Regions from separate parts of the Homo sapiens genome. Here region 2 is linked to region 1. Evidence: fine-mapped expression QTL. A gene starts in region 1. The other region holds a variant in brackets. All regions are shown on one strand. Distances are from middle to middle. Region 1 holds the start of CYSLTR2 (cysteinyl leukotriene receptor 2). Region 2 has its middle 28 kb from the start of CYSLTR2.

What was found. PIP is the estimated chance that this variant, and not a neighbour inherited with it, causes the effect. A credible set is the group of variants that fine-mapping cannot tell apart.
Region 2: its variant is the best candidate, but not a certain one, in a credible set for the expression of CYSLTR2 in whole blood (TOPMed, PIP 0.86).

Annotation. Positions count from the first base shown.
Region 1 is chr13:48,652,202-48,655,121 of GRCh38, reverse strand. CYSLTR2 (cysteinyl leukotriene receptor 2) reads right to left here and starts at 1,193. Exons shown (of 5, transcript NM_001308476.3): 1 at 1,105-1,193.
Region 2 is chr13:48,624,761-48,627,680 of GRCh38, reverse strand. No RefSeq gene overlaps it. Among named protein-coding and RNA genes, the nearest start is that of CYSLTR2, 28 kb to the left of the region's middle. The variant A/G (reference allele first, on the strand shown) is at 1,450.

The DNA.
Region 1 (2,920 bases):
AGTAAATCGAAACACAAGTAGATTCTTATCTCAAGAGTTTATGTGGCTGAGTAGATGATAGAAATTTCTAGAAGTCTTATGTTTCCCACAAATTATTTTATAATTTGCATTATTTATGTAGTGTTGAAAGGGAGATTTGGTTGGCTTGCCTTAAATTATACCTCCCTTTCTCCTAATACATATTACTCTCAGGTATATTTCAGAGACAGAAAAATATTTTGAATGACCTAGGTCATCTGTTTTTATGCTGACCACCCATTAGAACCACCTGAGAAGTTTCTGGAAAACAAGATAAAATACTGCAGATGACTCACTGATCTCCAAAAGTTAAGCTTCAGTTATTCTAGGGGTAATTTTCTAATCTCCTCAGAGTCGGGTGATTCTGGCCAGATGTGCAGCCAGGGTTGAGAAACACTGATTAGGGTCCCAGTGGGGTAAGGAACAGATTATATGCTCATGATCTCACATACTCTTTCATTCTCATTGTGCCTCTGAGCAAAACCATTGAAATATATGTGCTCAGATTTAACTTCTTCTACCCCTAAAACAAGACACTGAATGGAAAAAATATATCTTATATAATAGAAGGACCCAAACTATGAAAAAGAGGATAACAGCCAAAAATGGAGGAAGTATAGTAAAGTTCCTCAATGCAATAATATGCAGCAGCTTTAATTTATGATTACAAAGAATTCACAGCAACATGGAAAAACCATAGACTGATATGGAGGAAATGAATACAAACTTGTCCATAGTGTAGGGACGCAACTATGAAAACTAAAGTTATATGTGCATACACACACACACACACACACTCACACACACACACACACACACACACACACACACACACACACACACACACACACAAAGGGACGATCCCCAAAATATCAATAGAGGCTATTTTGGTGGAGAATTTGGCTTCTTTCAACATTTTTATACTTCCACAGTATTTTTTAAACTACCATGTACATGATAGGAAAATAACATTTATAGTAGAACAAAACAAATTTACTTTTAAAAAATTACTCCTCTGACTATTATGTGATCATCAAGTCATGATGCTCAACACTGAATTAACAAAACAAAGATTAAAATGCCCACCTGAAGGTCTCTGTCTTTCAGCTGCCCTGGCTTCTGCTGCCTCTATCTCTCCTGCCTTTCTCCTCCGAGTAATTCAGGTTGCTCATTTCAAAGAAAAGTGAAAGAGCAAATTATATTTATGAACAGTGCCAACCAATAGCAAGCAAGTCAGGAAGTGTAGCAGGTCATCTGTGCTTTTTAGAAGCCATTGTAGATGTTAGTGCAAGCTCCCTTCTCAAGAAGGGTGAAAATTTCCAGTTAGGGGCTATGTCTAAAAAGAAGAAACCTAAAATTGCCCTGCCCCTCTAATGACTGGTTTTTTGTCATTATCTTTCTCAAGAGATCAAGCGGATATGATGGGTTAGAGTCAGGAATTTTAAGTGGCTTTTAGTTCTCCTAAATGGTTTCTGTTTCCATGGCAACAGAAATAGCAACATTGCCTTACACACATAGCACTTTAGACTTTTTTAAAGCACTTCCCTCACTCACTTGCATTTTCAGCTCACTTGCACTCAGGCAGAGACCTTATCCAGTCTGCTGAAAATGTTCTGTCAGAGGTCACCAAAAACCTCCTTGTTGCTTACATAAAAAATCCTTTCTCAGTCCTCACCTTCCTTCCCCTCTTGTTTGCATAGTTGACCATTGCCACTTTCCTGAAACTTTTCCCTTTTTTCTCTGACTTTCCTGGTTCTTTTTCTACCCCTCAGATTGCTCTTCTTTGCCTCTCTTTCTGATGCCTCTTCTTCCACCCCTTTTCTACGTGTGAGCTTTCCCCAGAGGTCTGTGTTCTGACTTCTTCCCTCCTTCTCTTGCTTTTACCTATCTGATCCACAATCATGGCCAAATTTAATGTGGCCCAGGTGGAGCTTTTCTCTTCCTCTCTTAGTCCTGCATCCCCCCATCTACCCTGTCTAAGCAAATGGCACCACAATAATTTAGCCAGTTCATCCATCCATAAACCTAGAAGTCACTTTTAACTTCCCTCTTTCTTCCACCACCCACTTCTGAGCCAACAAGTTCCATTTGTTCTGCCCATAAAATATGTTCCAAATCGAACCATTACTCATCTCTCCATCACTGTTCAAATCCTCGTTTCCTGCATAGAAAGCTGCAGTAACATTAAGCAAGAAAAATAAGTAAAAGGGATCCAAATTGGAAATAAATAAGTAAAATTTTGTCTGTTTGCAAATGATAAAATCTTATATGTAGAAAAACCTGAAGATACCATGCACACACACACACACAAAACCCCAATAGAACTAATAAGCAAGCAAATTGAGCAAAGTTGCAGGACAGGAAATCAATACACAAAAATCAGTTGCATTTATATACACTAACAATAAACAATCCAAAAATGGAAACTAAGGAAACTATTCCATTTATAATAGCATCAAAATGAATAAAATACTTTGGATATATACTCAGTAGTAAGGTTACTGAATCTTGTTGAGATCTCTGCACTCTCATGTTTACTGTAGCACTATTCACAATAGCCAAAATATGGATCACCCGAAATGTTCATCAACAGAAAGATGGATGAAAAATGTGGTATATATTCACAATTGAATACTATTTACTGATTTAAAAAGAACAAAATTTGTCATTTGTGGCAACATGGATGAGCTTGGGAGACATTATGTTAAGTGAACTAAGCCAGGCATAGAAAGATAAATACTGCATGTTCTCACTCACATGTGGAAGCTAAAAAATTTGATCCTATAGAAGTGGAGAGTAGAATAGTGGTTACTAGGGGCTGGGAAGAGTACTTTCTAGGGGTGAGGGTGAGTGGTTTTCTGTGCAGCTTCTTCATGCAGCTGTGGAGAAGGGGCTGGGACCA
Region 2 (2,920 bases), 27 kb after region 1:
CAAGCACTCCCTGACAGTAGGGCCTTTGCCTCTGCCTGCAAGGCTCTTCCCCAGCTGTCCACCTGGCTTCTCCCTCACCTGCCTCAAGTCTTTCCTCAGGTGTCACTTTCTCAGTGAGGGATATCTCGATTACTGTATGTCAAATTGCACCCAACCCACCCCTCACTCCCAAAACTCTACTCATTTCTATTTTTTGCATCTCACTTAGCACCTCCTCATATGTCATATGACTTGTCAATCTGTTATGCCTTTTCACCGTGCCAAGATATGAGCTCCACAGGGTAGGGACTTCTGTTTTGCCCACTAAAGCTGACACACAGAAGGCATTCAGTCAATGTTTGCTGAGTGAATGAATGAATGAATGAATGAAATGAATGCTTCTGCTGGGACAAAAGTGTCATTTCTTAACAAAAAGCATTTTTTAAAGGGCAGACAGCCATCCTCCCAATGGTTTGTGAAGACTGAATTCCTTGGTTAATTTATCTCCAGGCCACATTCCTCATACCCAGTTTAAGCTGGGATTTTTCCAAGTCAATAAAATCAGGATTAAATTTTTAAAAAAATGTTGGTGAATGCACCTAACACAGTTCCTGGCACAGTATAGGTACCTTATAAATTGTTTCTTCTCCCCTTTCTGATAAGTATGGAATTTTATTATCCTGAAGGAGTGGGATGGAGGCTTGTTTAATAGGAGTCCTTCCGGTAAGAGGGACAAATGATCTGGGACAACAGCAGAGATTGCTCTTCCAGACTTGTGGATAGCAATGACACATCAAAACACTGACAGCATGGAAAGGCATCTCCATAGAAGTAAGCTATAGAATTTCTGGGCTCCTGAACAAGGAGACTACCACAAGCCTGCTCTCTGCATTTGGGCACAATTTTTACTGTTGATGGCCTTGCCCTTGCTCCTTAGTGTCCCCTGGCATTTTGCTTATTTAAAAAATTGTTTATTTATTTATGTTTAAACTCCTCTTACTATCATTCCCAAGCCTTCTGACATTTTGTTTCAAAGCATAGTATCAATATCAGAATGATCTGAAGTACAAAACAGTGGTTTGTGTTCGTCAAGGGGTGCTGGCACCATGAGTTGCAGTTTGACATAATCTCCCGCTCTGGGAACCCCAGCCCTTGAGATTGAAATTTCTAAGCGGCAGTAAAATCACTTAGCAATGGCTCTTTTTAGTGTAAGTGTTGCAGGATTTTTAAGGAATTAGAGAGATCGATGGAGTTCAGGAGGATATTTATCAATTATTTAGGTGCACCAGCCCAGTCAGATTAACATCCAAAGGATTGAGCCCTGAACAAAGAGTTAAGTTACATTTTAAGCATTTCATGGGGCAGGGAGAGATCTGTGCAGGGGGAGGCATACTACAGAAGTGAGAAAAAAACGCAGTTATTCAATCAGTTGAGATATGCATTACATCATTTCTTACTTTTCAAAGAAAA[A/G]CATGTTTTGCAACTTGAGTTTATCTGTCTAGTGACCTTGCAGCTGCACAGCTAGGGAAACAGGATTTTCACAATGCCTGGGAAAGGAGGAGAGATAAGGTTCACTAGCCACAGAAAAACAGGCAGTTAATTTTTAAAGGACTCCAACTCTTCCTTTTTCTCAGGCGGAATTGGGTTTTCTTACATACAACTGAGTTTTTGCTTACACACTCCTTAATTTCTTTTAATTCCTGTTCCATAAGGAGGCACCTATCTCTCCAAGGAGAGCCTGGGTGACTGACACTTGCTCCAGTTCACTGTTCCACAATGAGCAGCTCTGTGCAAACCTATCCCCAAAGGCTGAGTTTGCTGAGAAGCCAAAGAAAAAGACTCACAAATCCAATTTCTCAGAAAGAAACATTTAATAGGGACTTATGAAAAGAAGCCATGTCTTGGGAAGCTGAGAGATGGTAGATCCCTGTACCCACCCTCCAGAAAGTATTTTTTACATAGCAATTTGTTTTGGTGAAACGTGTCACTGGTCATGTCTCCGACCCTCGGCAAAACTCATGACTAGTGGAAAAGCTAGGTAAGCATCTTTATGAGGGGTTATCTATGCTGCAGTCCTTGTTTCTTGACCTTGCTGCAGAATGCCTTGGTCTACAGGAGTCAAACATTGGTCATTATGATAGTTTCACTTCAAGGTGGTATCACTCTTGCCATACAACAGGATATTCTCTTATACTCCACCCTATAAAACTGGTCCTTACAATCTCATGTGCCCTCCTCTTCTGGGATAGTCCCTGCACCTAGATGGAGGATGCTTGATATTGTATAGCTTTAGCAATAGTGCATTGGCTCCATTGGAGCTGCCATGACAACAGTAAAGGCAAAGCAGGGCAGTAAACAACATATGCATTTAATACCTAAACCAAGAACTAGCTTCATCCAAACCTGCCCAAAACCAGTCATTCAAAAGAGGGGTTTGGTCTGAAAGAGTGGTTATTTGGGTTTTCATATCAGTCATTAATTTAGTGATGTTATCTGATTCATCAGGAATATAAACATAGCATTCAGTTTTTATGATTGCACAAGCCCCCCTTGTGTAACAGTGAGCACGTCTAAAGCCATGTGCTTTTGGAGGACAGACTTTCTCATGAGAGTGACTTCTGTGTTTCAGAGAGAGATTCTCTTGTGGCTATTATTAAAAGCTTTCTTTGTATAATTTGTTACAGCTTCCACATGCTAAATAACATCTTTGATGTCCCGTTGAGGAAGGAAAATAGAAGCTAAGTTGTTGTACCGATAGAAAACAGATTGGGCCCAATGGGATTCCAAATGAAGGAAATTCCCAGGCTTTGAAAGAGTGTGAACTATCTGACCTTGCACCCGTGTGTAACCGAAAGAACATATTAATTTGTGCCATGCATCCAGGAAGTTCCATGTGGGCCAACCAAGAGATGCCTGGATATATTACCCATTCTGTAGCATG